Homo sapiens: one gene and its partners. The protein of the gene in region 1 interacts with the protein of each later gene in a pairwise test. Each region holds a gene or a part of one and is shown on either strand. Other genes may lie near its edges.

Region 1 (3,055 bases):
ATTTATTTATTTATTTTGAGACAGAGTCTCCCTCTGTCACCCAGGCTGGAGTGCAGTGGCGTGATCCTGACTTACTGCAACCTCCACCTCCTGGGTTCAAGTGATTCTCCTGCCTCAGCCTCCCAAGTAGCTGGGATTACAGGTGGCGGCCATCATGCCTGGCCAATTTTTGTATTTTTAGTAGAAACAGGGTTTCGCCATGTTGGCCAGGCTGGTCTCAGGTGACCGCAGGTGATCTGCCTGCCTTGGCCTCCCAAAGGGCCGGGACTACGGGCGTAAGCCACCGCGCCCAGCCATACCTGGCTAATTTTAAAAAATTATTTGTAGAGATAGGGTCTCACTATGTTGCCCAGGCTGGTCTCAAACTCCTGGACTCAAGTGATCCTCCAGCCTCCGCCTCCCAAAGTGCTGGGCTTACAGGCGTGACCCACCATGCCTGGCCCTCAACTATCTCATTTTAGACAGGAAAATCAACAATACAATAAATTTCCATTCCCAGAGCAAACCCCAAATAAAATGTTAGAAGGACACCAGGAAGCAAGTCTTGGCATTTAATGAGCAGCAAACTAAACCAGGCCATTACCCAGGGATGCTTCACGTTTATTCAGAGGATAAAAGCCCAGCAGTGATGACCATGTGATTACCAAAGGTATCTGCAAATCACCCAAAAGTGCATGACATCTAGTAATAAATAATTTTGCTGAAAAATGAATTAGAACCTCTCATACTGCAAGGCTAATATGTGGGAACGAATCAAGTTAGCTAGAGAACAAACCATCTGCTTAGCAGTTTCAACTCAGTTTGGCTGTGTTCTCTCTTGTACTGCATATACGCTTGTTAAAATCTAACAGGGTCCCATGGTTTTTCCAGCTCTGTGGTACTGCACTGTATGACGCATATCACACACATCAGAGACACACACAGATGTGGAGACTGGCTGCCCAGAAGCCCCATCATTCAGCCACCAGTTATCATCACTTGCCAAAGTAAAATTACATGGCCATATAATCACTCCGTGGTAGGGATCCAACCCTCGCCCTGTCCTTTCCTATCCAAATGGAAGACTTTTGTTGTGGAAGTCTAACAGACCCTGAGGTGACCTTCCCTTATCAGAATACTTTTTTAATTCTATTAATTGGTTCCAATTATCTTTTTGTTGGTTTTGTTGTTTGTTTTGAGACAGGGTCTTTCTGTCACCCAGGCTGGAGTGCAATGGCATGATCATAGCTCACTGCGGCCTCAAACTCCCAGGCTCAAGCAATCCTCTTGCCTCAGATTCTCAGTAGCTAGGACTACAGGTGTGCACCACTACACCCGGCTAATTATCTTTTTTTGAGACAGGGTCTTGCTCTGTTACCCAGGCTGGAGTGCAGTGGCTCGATCTCCGCTCACTGCAACCTCCACCTCCCGAGTTCAAGCCATCCTCTCGCCTCAGCCTCCCTGGTAGCTGGGACTACAGGCATGCGCCATCACACCCAGCTAAATTTTGTATTTTTAGTAGAGACGGGGTTTCACCACGTTGGCCAGGCTGGTCTCCATCTCCTGACCTCAGATGATCCACCCACCTTGACCTCCCAAAATGCTGGGATTACAGGTGTGAGCCACCACGCCAGGCCCTAACTGATTATCTTTAGTCTGCAAAACAGATCACGGGCTTTTTTTAAGGGCTTGGGGGTTGGGAACCTCAAGTTCTCCCTTGCTTCCTGCCTCCACACCAGATTTAAATGCCCCTTTAGAGTCATGGCAGCTATCCTTCCGTCCATTCTTCACCAAACCCATATATCCTTAATAGGAAATTCAATGTAAAGGAGAAAGTATCTGCACTCAGGGGTCAGAGAGACTCAAGTTAAAATTCCAGTGGCATCACTGTATGCTATCAGGCACATCACTGAACCTCTCCAAGCCTTAGGTTGCTCATCACTAACAACCACGAGAACAGGAGTAAGTACTTCTCAAGGCTGGCATGAAGACTAAATCAGAAAACATATGTGCCCAGCATATGGTAAATGCCTGATCAACAACACATCCATCTCATGTTACCTTCTGCTGTGATCTGAATGTGTCCCCCAAAGTTCGTATGTTGGAAATTTAATCCTCGATGCAACAATGTTGGGAGGTGAGGCCTAATGGGAGGTGTTTAGGTCATGAGGGCTTCACCCTCATGAACAGATTAATGTCTTATCTCAGGAGTGGGTTTGTTATAAAATCAACATCAGCCCCCTCTTGCTCTCTCTCACTCTTGCACTCTCTTGCTATTCCATTCTGTCATGGGATGATACAGCAAGAAAACCTTCATTAGATGCCAGCTCCTTGACCTTGGACACCATATTCTCCTCTCAGCATGAACATCAGTCTACCCTCTTTTACATTAAAGCAGTTTTTCTTTTCTTTTTTTTCTTTTTTTTTGGAGACGGAGCCTCCCAAAGTGCTGGGATGACAGGCGAGTCACTGTGCCAGCCCTAAAGCAGTTTTTCTAAAATATCACATAGGAAGTAAATTGCAAGTCAAACTAAATTTTAAAATGCACTAGAAGGGTCCAAAATTGATTCCCTTTTAGAAAACATACTATCCCCTATTTGATTTGAGAATTGGAATTCTTTTTTTTTTTTTGAGACAGAGTCTCCCTCCCTCTGTTGCCCAGGCTGCAGTGTGGTGCAATATCGGCTCACTGAAACCTCCGCCTCCTGGGTTCAAAAGCAATTCTTTTTTTTTTTTTTTTTTGGAGATGGAGTTTTGCTCTTGTTGCACAGGCTGGAGTGCAATGATGCGATCTCGGTCACTGCAACCTCCACCTCCCCAGTTCAAGCGATTCTCCTGTCTCAGCCTCCCGAGTAGCTGGGATTACAGGCGCATGCCACCACGCCTGGCTAATTTTTGTATTTTTAGTAGAGACGGGGTTTCATCATATTGGTCAGGCTGTCTCGAACTCCTGACCTCAGGTGATCCGCCCGCCTCAGCCTCCCAAAATGCTAGGATTACAGGTATGAGCCACCGCACCTGGCTGGTTCAAGCAATTCTTATGTCTCAGCCTGCCGAATAGCTGGGATTACAGGCA
Region 2 (3,852 bases), on another chromosome or scaffold:
GGTAGGAGGATTGCTTCAGCTGGGAGGTCAAGGCTGCAGTGAGCCATGATTTTGACACTCCACTCCAGCGTGGATGACAGAGCAAAACCTTGTCTCAAAATAAAAAAGAAAAAAATGATTTGGAGAGAGGCAAGCAATCCAAGTTTGTCAAGGAGGGTCAGTTTTAGGACTTTTGTTGGAAACACTGGTCGAAAATTTCTTTACTCTGAAGTTCCTAAGCTGGAAGGGCACAGAAGGCTACAGCACTACCCAGAGGGAAGGTTGTGCCTAAGAATGAAGCCAACACAAGGGAAGCAGATCTGAGACCACAAAGATGCCTTTCACATCCTTTGAGCTCCTGGATACAGCCATACCCCTGAAGCCTTTGTTGATTTTTCATTTCTTTTTTTTTTTTTTTTGAGACGGAGTTTTGCTCTGTCACCCAGGCTGGAGTGCAGTGGCACGACCTTGGCTCACTACAACCTCAGCCTCCTGGGTTCAAGCAATTCTCCTGCCTCACCCTCCCAAGCAGCTGGGACTACAGGCGCCTGCCACCACGCCCAGCTATTTTTTTATATTTTTAGTAGAAATGGGGTTTCACCGTGTTAGCCAGGCTGGTCTCGATCTTCTGACCTTGTGATCTGCCCGCCTCGGCCTCCCAAAGTGCTAGGATTACAGGTGTCAGCCACCACATGTGGCCATTGATTTTTCATTTCTTTCCACCTATCAGTTACCTAATTTTGAAGTCTTCAAAAAGTGGCATTCTTACCACTTACACATAAATATATACTGAATGTAAACTGACAAGGATGTGGACTGAGAGAAGCACAGCAGGTGACCAGAAGGGAAGGCAGAGGCATAGCAAGGGGTCGAAGCTGGGGTAGGACAGTGGGCAGCAGCAGCACTCACTGGACCAGATGGGAGGCCAGGACTTCCTTGCAGATGGGCTGCTCGGCCAGCGTCAGCCAGAACTCACAGGCCTCAAGGGCAACGTTCTCATCATGGTCCTGGGTCCTCTGCAGCATGTACTGTGGTAGGGGGGAGAAGCTGAGGCCTGGCCTGGCTGGGGGTGGCTCCCTGACCCCTGCCACCGGCCCCCTGCCTGCCCGCCTGGGCTGGCCTTGACCATGCACACCTGGATGATGCTGTGCATGTGGGGGATGAGCCTGTCAATCCGCACTTCCAGAAGCATCACCAGGGCACGGCACACATTCTTCCGCACCTCGGGGTCATCATCCACAGCCAGGGCAAATAGGTGCTGCAGGGAGGAACAGGGTCAGTTGTAGGGGCCCTCAGTCCTCGCCCTGCCCACCCCCAGCCCAGCGGCCCACCTCGATGAAGGTGTCAATATTGTCCATCAGCGCCTGGGCCCGGTCCATGATGAACTGGTTCACGCAGGCGATGGCGTGGGACCTGGCGGGGAGCAGACACGTGGGTCACCCTGACCCTGCCCACTCCAGGCTCCCTGGAAGCCCCCAGGGAGCTGCACCCACCGGATCTTGGGACTGCAGTGCTTGAAGAACTGCAGGAACTTGGGGATCATGATGTTGAGGGGCCTGTTGAGGGCGTCACTGTCCAGAAGCTCTGATGAGTCTTCACAGATCTTCTGCAGGGCTCCAAAGGCTCCCTGAGTGCAGAGGGGCAGAGAGACAAACGTGGGTGGTGGGTGGTGGTCCCAGCCCCCCAGTACTCGCTCTGGCCATCCATGGCTTCTTGCCTACCTCACAAGTGTTGTAATCCTCCGAGTTAAGCAGGTTGCAGAGCTGGGGCAGCAGCTCGGGCCACATCTGCAGCTCACCCTTGGAAGCGATGGTGGTGATGAGAATGCCTGGGGCGGCCGGGAAAGGACGCTGCCTGAGGCTGGGCAGGGGCTGCCTAGCACCTCCCCCTCCCACTGGACACCCCCAGTGCTGCCTTTCTGTTCCCTAGCCCATGTACGCCCTCTACATCCCCCCTCCTTTTTTTTTTCTTTGTAAGAGATAGAATTAGCTCTGTTGCCCAGGCTGGACTGCTGTGGCACAATCAATAGTCCACAGCAGCCTCAAACTCCTGGCCTCAAGCCATCTTCCTGCCTCAGCCTCCTAAGTAGCTGGGACTGCAGGCACATGCCACCACGCCCAACTAATTTTTAAAATTGTTTGTAGAGATGGGATCTCACTATGTTGCCCAGGCTGGCCTAAAACTCCTGGCCTCAAGCAATCCTCCTGCCTTGGCCTCCAAAAGCACTGAGATTACAGGCGTGAGCCACCGCTCCTGGCCTTGACATAGGTAGAAGGGTACTCCTTGACTCAGTAGGCACCCTGAGCCTTACTGTGAGTCAACTCTGTTCCAGGCCCTGAGGCACAGCACAGAGCAAAACACAAAATCCTCACCCTTGGGAGCTGGAAGCAAGCTATGAAGTAAAGATAAATTAGCAAAAAAAACTGGGAGGGGCCGTGCATGGGTGGCTCATGCCTGTAATCCCAGCACTTTGGGGGACCGAGGTGGGTGGATCACTTGAGGTCAGGAGTTCGAAACCAGCCTGGCCAACATGGTGAAACCCCATCTCTACTAAAAATACAAAAATTAGCTGGGTGTGGTGGGGGGCACCAGTAATCCCAGCTACTTGGGAGGCCGAGGCAGGAGAATCACTTGAACCTGGGAGGCAGAGGTTGCAGTGAGCAGAGATCGCGCCACAGCACTCCAGCCTGGGATGGAGCAAGACTCCATTTCAAAAACAAACAAAACAAAAACAAACAACTGGGAGGGGCCACATGCCAAGGACTAAGGGGGGAAATACAGCAGAAAAGATGGTGAGAAAGGGCTGTAGGTGAAGGTAGCAACTTTAAATTGGGTGGCCAGAGCAGGCCTCGTTGAGGTGACATCTTGATATCTGAGCCAAGGCCTGAAGGAGGTGAAGGAGGCGAGGGAGGAATCATCCAGGTTTCTGGGGAAAGGGCATCTGAGGCAGGGGACTCTATGGTGCAAAGGCCTGGCGTAAGGACAGGCATGATGAGAGAGGGAAAGGAGGTAAGGGCAGGAAGGTGGCAGGGATGCTTGTACTGCCTATTAGATATCCAGGAGTTACATACAGCAGGCATCTGAGGTGCCAGGACAGTGCACATATCTGGTGACAGAGCTGGATATGGGTTCTGTTAAGTGCAGAGATGGTATTTGCTGCCATGAGATGGCAGTGTTTCCCAAGGGTGGAAACTCAACGAGAGAAAGGTGCTCCCTGCAATGGGTAGGTACACAGTGAGGATTGTGGAACTTTAGCCACACCCCCTCATTCTGTGTGCCTCAGTGCTTCCAGCCCTCAGAAGAGATAAAGAAAACCAGCCTCCTAACTAAGGTTATCAGTAGGTTTCTTTTTCTCTCTTTTTTTTTTTTTTTTTTTTTGAGATGGAGTCTCACTCTGTAGTCCAGGCTGGAGTGCAGTGGCACAATCTTGGCTCACTGCAACCTCCACCTCCCGAGTTCAGGTAATTCCCCTGCCTCAGCCTCTGAAGCAGCTGGGATTACAGGTGCCCGCTGCCACACTCAGCAAATTTTTGTATTTTTAGTAGAGATAGAGTTTCACCATGTTGGCCAGGCTGGTCTCGAACTCCTGACCTCAGGTGATCCACCTGCCTCAGCCTCCCAAGGTGCTGGGATTAGAGGCGTGAGCCACTGTGCTCAGCCTGGATCAGTAAGTTTCAATGACTTAGCAAAGAGCCTGGCACATAGAATGAGCTCAGGAAGTCCACATCCTACTACTGGCCTGGGAGGGGGTTTTTGCAGGACTAAAAGTTACTTTTTATTTTTGAGATGGAATCTCAGTCTGTTGCCCAGGATAGAGTACAGTGGCATTATCTTGGCTTACTGCAACCTCTGCCTCCCGGGCTCAAGCAATTC
Region 3 (3,852 bases), about 44 Mb from region 1:
TCTGGCCAATATGGCAAAATCCCATTGCTACTAAAAAAAAAAAAAAATAATAATAATAATAATATATAAATTAGCCAGGCGTGGTGGCACATGGCTGTAACCTCAGTTATTCAGGGTGGCTGAGGCATGAAAATCACTTGAAGCCAGGAGTTAGAGACTGCAGTCAGTCAAGATCATGCCATCGCACTGCAGCCTGGACAACAGGGCAAACTCTGCCTCAAAAAAAAAAAAAGAAGAAAAGAAGAAAAGAAAAGACAAGACTATCCTTTCTTAGCTGAATTGAACTGCCTTTTCATTTCTATCGAAAATCAGGAAGGGCAATTTAATGTATAATGACAGAAGATTGGTAGTTGATGGAGGACTTTTGGGAGTGACAGAAATGTTCATTCCTTTGATTGCAGTGATGGACTCAGTTACATACATGTCAAAACTTAACAAATGGCACACTTTAAATATGTCTACTTTGTTGTATGTCAATTTCAGCTCAATAAAGATGTTTTTTAAAAAAATTAGAGAGCCCATACAACACAGGGAAACCTCATCTCTGCAAAAAATTTATAAATTAGCAGGGTATGATGGCTTGTGCCTGTAGTCCCAGCTATTTAGGAGGCTAAGGTGGGAGGATCACTTGAGCCAGGGAGGTCGAGGCTGTGATGAGCTGTGATTGCACCACTGCACTCCATAGCTTGGGCAACACAGCAAGACCGTGACTCAAAAAACAAAATAAATAAACAAAAATAAAAGAATTAGAGGTTTCAAAAGGCTAATACACAAGAACTATTCATGAGCTTTGCTGCTAGGGACAAAGGCTAAGCTTAGGAGAGAAAACACCAAAAATGCCCTTGGCAAATGCACAGCTCCCACCTCATAGAACTAATCAATCACAAACACTTACCAGATTGCTATTTCCTTACGATGGGAAAATCTAAGCCTGCATTTCACTCTTCATACAAGCCACCTTTCTCGTCTTTAGGGATATGTCTTGCTATAGAGGCTGCAGTCAGTCAAGATCATTCTTGACTGAATGTTCTTTCTTAGAGCCTTACTACTGCCCAAGGCTTTAATTACTACTGGTACTTCCTGGCCTCTTTTTTACCCATGCTTTTTCTTTCTCTGACATTCTCTTCTCCAGAAATGTTTTTTCTACTCTTCATTCAGATTTTTTTCCTTTTTCAAAAAGAACCTGAGTTATGAGCATGTTCATTCAGGTTTAATGCCAACTCCTACTGTTCTCCATTCAAGTCTTCTGAGGCACTTTTACTTCTACTTGCCTGGGTCTCTCTTCCCTTTTGGGTTCTTCCCTTAGCTCCTGCTCAAGTGTCCTCCCCACTCCCACAACCACTAATATTTTATCCATTCCCTCTTCTTTTCCCTGTAATCCCAACACTTGGAGGCCGAGGTCGGTAGATCAGCTGAGGCCAGGAGTTCGAGACCAGTCTGGCCAATATGGCAAAACCCCATTGCTACTATATATATATGTATACATATACATATATATACACATACATATATATGTATATATACATGTATATGTATATATATACATGTATATGTATACATATATATACATGTATATGTATACATATATATATACATGTATATGTATACATATATATATACATGTATATGTATACATGTATGTATATATATACACACACACACACACACATATATATAAATTAGCCAGGCGTGGTGGCACATGGCTGTAACCTCAGCTATTCAGGGTGGCTGAGATATGAGAATCACTTGAAGCCAGGAGGCAGAGGCTGCAGGGTCGTCTGGATTTCTAGAATTATTCCAACCAGCCTCTTCCGCTGACTTTATCCAGTTCTTTACCCAAAATGTCTACTCCAAGCCTTAGAAGTAGTTTATCAAGGCAGGAGTTACACTGACAGAAAGAAGTGGAAAAGAGACAGAGATGAGAATCACTAATTTACTGCTTTTGTGGAGAGATTTCTACTCCTAGATATATTCAAATCGGCTATGCCTATGGTGTAATCCAATTCTCCTCCACCATGTTAGGCTTGGCCCCAGGGTGAGCAGCAATATTACCCTAGTTTTCCCAGCTACCATGACTTCCAAGGCAGAAATGCAAAGCTCAGAATGGAGTAATCTCTCACATTACTCAGCAGTTCAACCAAATCTCACTCAACCCTTATATTTCCAGGGTCTTTTTCCTTCAATTAGTCTCCAAAACTAGCTCTGTCCCCAACTTCATATTCCAATCCTGTCTCTGCTCCTAAATTCCACCCATTCATCCCATACTAGTTTTTTTCTCCAAGGGTATCTGTGGTGGAAGTGAGCCCCAAGTTCTGCTCAGTCTACGCTCATTGTGAAAATAAGCAGGTGAAGGCAAGAGCAGGTGGGTGGAATGTATTAGGGAGCCACCTAGATCCAGAGGATAACTTGATTCAGTGGCCATAGCATCACCTGGCTTTGGCTTCTGGAGCCTGGCACCAAGCCAGCAGAGGAAGAGAGAGCCCCAGGTTCCTAGGTACTTTGGTTTCCTCAAATTAGAAGATATAAAATTGGTCCCCACCTTCACCGTCTTCTAGTTCTAGACTCCCAAAGCAAAGGAGGGGGTTCTAGGAGAAGAGCAGGAACAGTCTGAGTAAAAACCAAGTACTGAAGCTGAGGATGCCATGTTGATTAAGAAAGGAATGGGGATTAGGATATCCAGATGAGGTTTGGAGTAGGAAGATTGCGCCCTGGACGGTGAATACTTCATTTGGGAGAGTACAACTTAAAGAATAAAATACATTAGGCCATTTTGTACGTCTTAAGCCATTTTGTACGTCTTAAGCATGATGACTGCGGTTTCAAGCTCACGGTGAGGTATGCCTCCCTCAACCCTTGTTACGGATGCCAGTCTGACATGAAAAAAAAAAGGACGGAAAAAAAGAGTAAATTCTGACAAACTTAATTTTCAGATAGCTACAAAATAACTTAGATCCCAGATCTAATATTTTATCCTTTAAGAAAACTGACGGGAGGGCGTGGTGGCTCACGCCTGTAATCCCAGCACCTTGGGAGGCCAAGGCGGGCGAATCTCTTGAAGTCAGGAGTCAGAAACCAGCCTGGCCAACATAGCGAAACCCCGTCTCTACTGAAAATACAAAAATTAGCCAGGCATGGTGTTGCACACCTGTAATCCCAGCTACTCGGGAGGCTGAGGCACAAGAATCACTTGAACCTGGGAGGCGGAGGCTGCAGTGAGACGACATCACGCCACTGTACTCCAGCCTGGATGACAGAGGGAGACCCTGTCTCAAATAAAAAAAAAAGGAAAAGAAAGAAAAGAAAACTGACAACAGGGCCCAATTCTGAGAGAGGAGAAAGGGACCTTCCCAAATGTACAATTCCAGAAGCAGTGTAAATACTCCCTGACCCATCCCAAGTTTGCTGAGTCATGAATATTAAATCAGCAGCAAGGTCAAAACGGATAAGTATCTGTAGGGTACTGAGAGTGGAAGATTAGCCTGAATTTAGGGATTTGTGGTTTTTAACTCAGGAACAGGGCAGAAAATGCTAACCTGCCCAGATCCACATTACCACATTACCTGGCTTTCAGCTCAACCCCAAACTCTACTCTCTGAATCACAGTATCCTGGTCCCCATCTATTCAAGTCTATCACTGCCACAGCACACAGGAGAAAGGGAAAAGATTCAGAGAGACTTTCTGCTGGACACTTATATGTGGGACAGAAAACGTGTCCCTTCCCAGCCATCTCATACAGTTCATTTGAACTGGATACCAATCTTTCTCAGCTGTGCAGGGCTCCTACGCTTCCTAGAACAAAGCAAACATCATATCTTGATCTTGGACTCAACTTAAGAATCACTTTTCTTGGA
Region 4 (3,852 bases), on another chromosome or scaffold:
GTAGACTGGGGAAGACACCTATAACTTCTGTAAAATGAGAGAATGCATAAAGAATTTCACCACCAAAATGTTAAAAACATATATACCATAAAACCACCTTAACAAAATTTAAAAGCAAATGATAAATTAGAATTCAATAAAGAACCTTTAAAAACCAGTAAGAAAAACATGAATAACACAACAGATAAATGGACAAAAGGTAGACAGGCAATTATTCCATAAAAAAGGGAATATATTAAAATGGTATTCAATAGCATTTTAATCTCATGAATATTCACATTAATACAACAGAATTATTTTCTTAAATTGACAAAGAGAAAGTTAGTTATCAGTGCTCACTAGAACATGTTGGGTATAGATACATACATATATACCCATACTTTGTTGGAAGACACTTTGGTAGTATCTATCAATGGCTTCCAACAATTCATTTTTTTTTTTTCTTTTTGAGAAGGAGTTTTGCTCTTGTCCCCCAGGCTGGTATGCAATCTCGGCTCACTGCAACCTCTACCTCCCGGGTTCAAGCGATTCTCCTGCCTCACCCTCCTGAGTACCTGGGAATTACAGGCGCCTGCCACCATGCCCAGCTAATTTTTTTGTACTTTTAGTAGAGATGGGGTTTCACCATGTTGGCCAGGCTGGTATTGAACTCCTGACCTCAGGTGATCCACTCACCTTGGCCTCCCAAAGCACTGGGATTACAGGCGTGAGCCACTGCGCCCGGCCACCTTCCAACAATTCCACTCCTCTTTGTCCCACCAATTCTACTTTTGCTTAGTTATCTTAAGGAAATCATTGTGAAAATATTTGCAACTGTAAGGATGTTTAGCATAATACTGCTTTTCATATTTAAAATCTGTAAGTAGCCCAAACGGGCCAAAACAGGAAACTAGTTAATTCACTTATGATATAACCACAGGATGGAAAACCAGAAAGTCATTACAAACAGTTCATAGACTATTTAGTGAAATGAAAAAACTGTAACTGCAGATTTTTTAAAATTCTTTCGAATAGCTAATATATTTACATGGTTCAAAAATCTAAGCAATATGTGCACACAACTGAGAATTCTCACCATCACCAACTTCTATAAATAACCAATCTTTCTTACCAAAAAATAGTAACACTGTTCTGCACTGTTTTAAAACTTAATGATAAAAATTTGCCATAATAAATTTTCAGTTTGGAAGAAGGTTATACAATAGCAACATAGCAAATAAACTTATTTTTTAAAAACTGTGCAGAAAAAAAGACTGAAAGTTTATAAACCAAAAACTGATGAATTACGTTTTAATTTTCTTCTTTGTTGACTATTTTTTTTTTTTTGAAACTGAGTTTCACTCTTATTGCCCAGGCTGGAGTGCAGTGGCGCAATCTCGGCTCACTGCAACCTCCACCTCCCGGGTTCAAGCGATTCTCCTGCCTCAGCCTCCCAAGTAGCTGGGATTACAAGCGCCTGCCACCATGCCTGGCTAATTTTTCTATTTTTAATAGAGACGGGGTTTTGCCATGTTGGCCAGGCTGGTCTCGAACTCCTGACCTCAAGTGATCCACCCGCCTCAGTCTCCCAAAGTGCTAGGATTACAGGTATGAGCCACCGTGCCCGGCCATGACTATCTTTATTTTCCAAATTTGAGTACTGAGCATGAAATTCTTTAATCAGTTATTTAAATTAAAAGAAAATAAAACTAGAAGCTGATGTTTAAATTATGCTTACCTGCTTCAGGTTTGTTCAAGTCATATATGCGTAACAGTTTATCCTGTCCCCCGGTTAACAAATAATTACTATCCTGAAAACACAAAGTAAAATGTGAATAGATTAACCATTTTAATAGTTATTTCTCTTTCAAATTTCAACACCAAATAAAATCAAAATCTAGCTCACAGACATCACAAAGAGATGCCAAGACATAACCAATTACTTCTGAGAAGATACTGTGGAACAGCTGACCTCTCATAACTGCCAAGACTTGTAAGCTTTCCACTTCAAAAGCGTTACACTACACTACATATACATGAACTCTCCCATTCTCCCCTGATCCTACTCCTCTCCCTTGTGAGAGGCCCTTTTCTGATTATCTCAAATTTATCTTCTCCCTTCTATTAGTAGTTGGGGAAGGCTACTTGAGCTTTTCAGATGTTTTTTACATGTTGAAGGACTGGTACTCGTTCCACAGTATCTTAAAAGCTTGACAGGATTAACTATGAAACAAATTCATAGAGCTTAATACACAATCAAATCAAATATGAACCAAGAAATAACAAATATTCCACACAAAACATATCAATCAAATATACACACCAATCAAGTATAAAAGCATTATCACACTATGTACCAGCAACTTAACTCGCTAAAATAAATTCCATTTTCTGATACCTGCGTGAAATCCACAGTCTTGACAATGTGTTTATGAGCCAGGGTCATCAATTCATCTCCTGAGACAGCATCCCACACTTTGCTAAAAGTAAAAAAGAGAAAATTAGTAGGATAAATATTACCCAATATATTAAAAGGATAAATACAATTATAATATTGATGAGTACCAAATAAGTTAGATATGTGAAATGTTACATAAATGTATTATAAATCTCCTTTATCTCTAATATCCCTCACAGACTTCATTTGATAAAATATTTAAATAAGCTTAAGGGAAAAGAAATTTCTCTGTAAAAACTTTATAACCAATCTAATTTTCTTTGACAGTGGAAAAGATATGAACAATTTAAGCAAGTAAGATTCATGAACCAACCCATCCTCCTTACTTTTATTTTAGCTGACAGCCATAATATCCCTTTAGCAAGCCTGTCATACATTTTAACCAATTTTTAGTTTCACCATGCCAATTTTTTCTCTATTCTCCACTCAGATGCACAATAAAAAATAAAAATAAATAAAAAAACCAGAAATCCTTAAAAATGTTACAAGGGAATGAAAAGCCTTGGTACAGGCTAAGTAAAATTTTAAATTAAGATAGTGGAGAGACAATGTCCACTTCATCTCTTCTTCAAAGCTGACTTAAAATTTCAAACTCTAGTACAGTTAACTTCCCCCAAACTATCAGCCTTTGATTATATAATGCTAACACTGACTATTTTAATCTTTACATTGTTTTTTCTGTCCCACCCCACCCCAAAATACAAGTTGGTTATAGGTATACATACATTTATATGTGTATGTATATTCTGGGCGGGTAATAGTTGAGCAATACTTTACAAAATTACTCTAAAAGGGTTCCCCCAAATAAAAAAGCTTAAGGAAGGGGGAAAAAAAAGTTGATTTTAGATCAGAACAGGTCAGTGAAAAATAAACAAGAAAACTTTGCAGACAGGGAAAAGAATTGCTAAGAGTGAAAAAGCTATGTTCCATAGAGATTTCCATTTTAATGCAACTGCTATTTATTTTCAGGAACACAGTGGGCAATAAAATGGTAGAGGGAAAAAAATCAGAGAAAAGCAAGATGTATCTTTTCTTTTGCTTACCCCAATACATAATAAAATATATTAAATATATATCATTCTATACTTAGTGCTAAGGCACAAATGGGAGACAAAAAATACCCCACAGTAGGTTCTTGCCATAGTAGAGCTTTAGCTGAGGAGAAAAACATGCATTAAATATCACATTTAAGAAATATAATTAAAAGACATATATATGGCTATAAAAACTCAGAAAAAAGCACCTAGATATTGTCCAGAAAATGTAAGTAACAGAGCTAGCCGTCGGAAGAAGCAAAGAGAAATATATCAGGGGAAAAAGAAGGGAAGGCTATTCTAGATAAGCATTAATAGCATGTGCAATGTGGTTAATGAATATGAAAGACCATCTAACAGGAATGCTCATGATACACTACC

The links. Proteins that work in one complex are often made in the same cells at the same time.
Region 2: the proteins of NME1 (region 1) and TNPO2 interact in binary tests that used the Homo sapiens proteins (3 or more experiments, as listed by UniProt).
Region 3: the proteins of NME1 (region 1) and FXR2 interact in binary tests that used the Homo sapiens proteins (3 or more experiments, as listed by UniProt).
Region 4: the proteins of NME1 (region 1) and STRAP interact in binary tests that used the Homo sapiens proteins (3 or more experiments, as listed by UniProt).

What each region holds. Positions count from the first base shown.
Region 1 is NC_000017.11:51,156,559-51,159,613, reverse strand, and holds part of NME1 (nucleoside diphosphate kinase A), read right to left. Parts: intron 1-3,055. UniProt on the Homo sapiens protein: Major role in the synthesis of nucleoside triphosphates other than ATP. The ATP gamma phosphate is transferred to the NDP beta phosphate via a ping-pong mechanism, using a phosphorylated active-site intermediate.
Region 2 is NC_000019.10:12,713,933-12,717,784, forward strand, and holds part of TNPO2 (transportin-2), read right to left. Parts: intron 1,808-3,852; coding exon 1,701-1,807; intron 1,607-1,700; coding exon 1,473-1,606; intron 1,393-1,472; coding exon 1,311-1,392; intron 1,238-1,310; coding exon 1,115-1,237; intron 1,008-1,114; coding exon 889-1,007; intron 1-888. UniProt on the Homo sapiens protein: Probably functions in nuclear protein import as nuclear transport receptor. Serves as receptor for nuclear localization signals (NLS) in cargo substrates.
Region 3 is NC_000017.11:7,608,398-7,612,249, forward strand, and holds part of FXR2 (RNA-binding protein FXR2), read right to left. Parts: intron 2,877-3,852; exon of another isoform or gene 2,784-2,876; intron 1-2,783. UniProt on the Homo sapiens protein: mRNA-binding protein that acts as a regulator of mRNAs translation and/or stability, and which is required for adult hippocampal neurogenesis. Specifically binds to AU-rich elements (AREs) in the 3'-UTR of target mRNAs.
Region 4 is NC_000012.12:15,888,535-15,892,386, reverse strand, and holds part of STRAP (serine-threonine kinase receptor-associated protein), read right to left. Parts: intron 2,460-3,852; coding exon 2,378-2,459; intron 1,791-2,377; coding exon 1,718-1,790; intron 1-1,717. UniProt on the Homo sapiens protein: The SMN complex catalyzes the assembly of small nuclear ribonucleoproteins (snRNPs), the building blocks of the spliceosome, and thereby plays an important role in the splicing of cellular pre-mRNAs.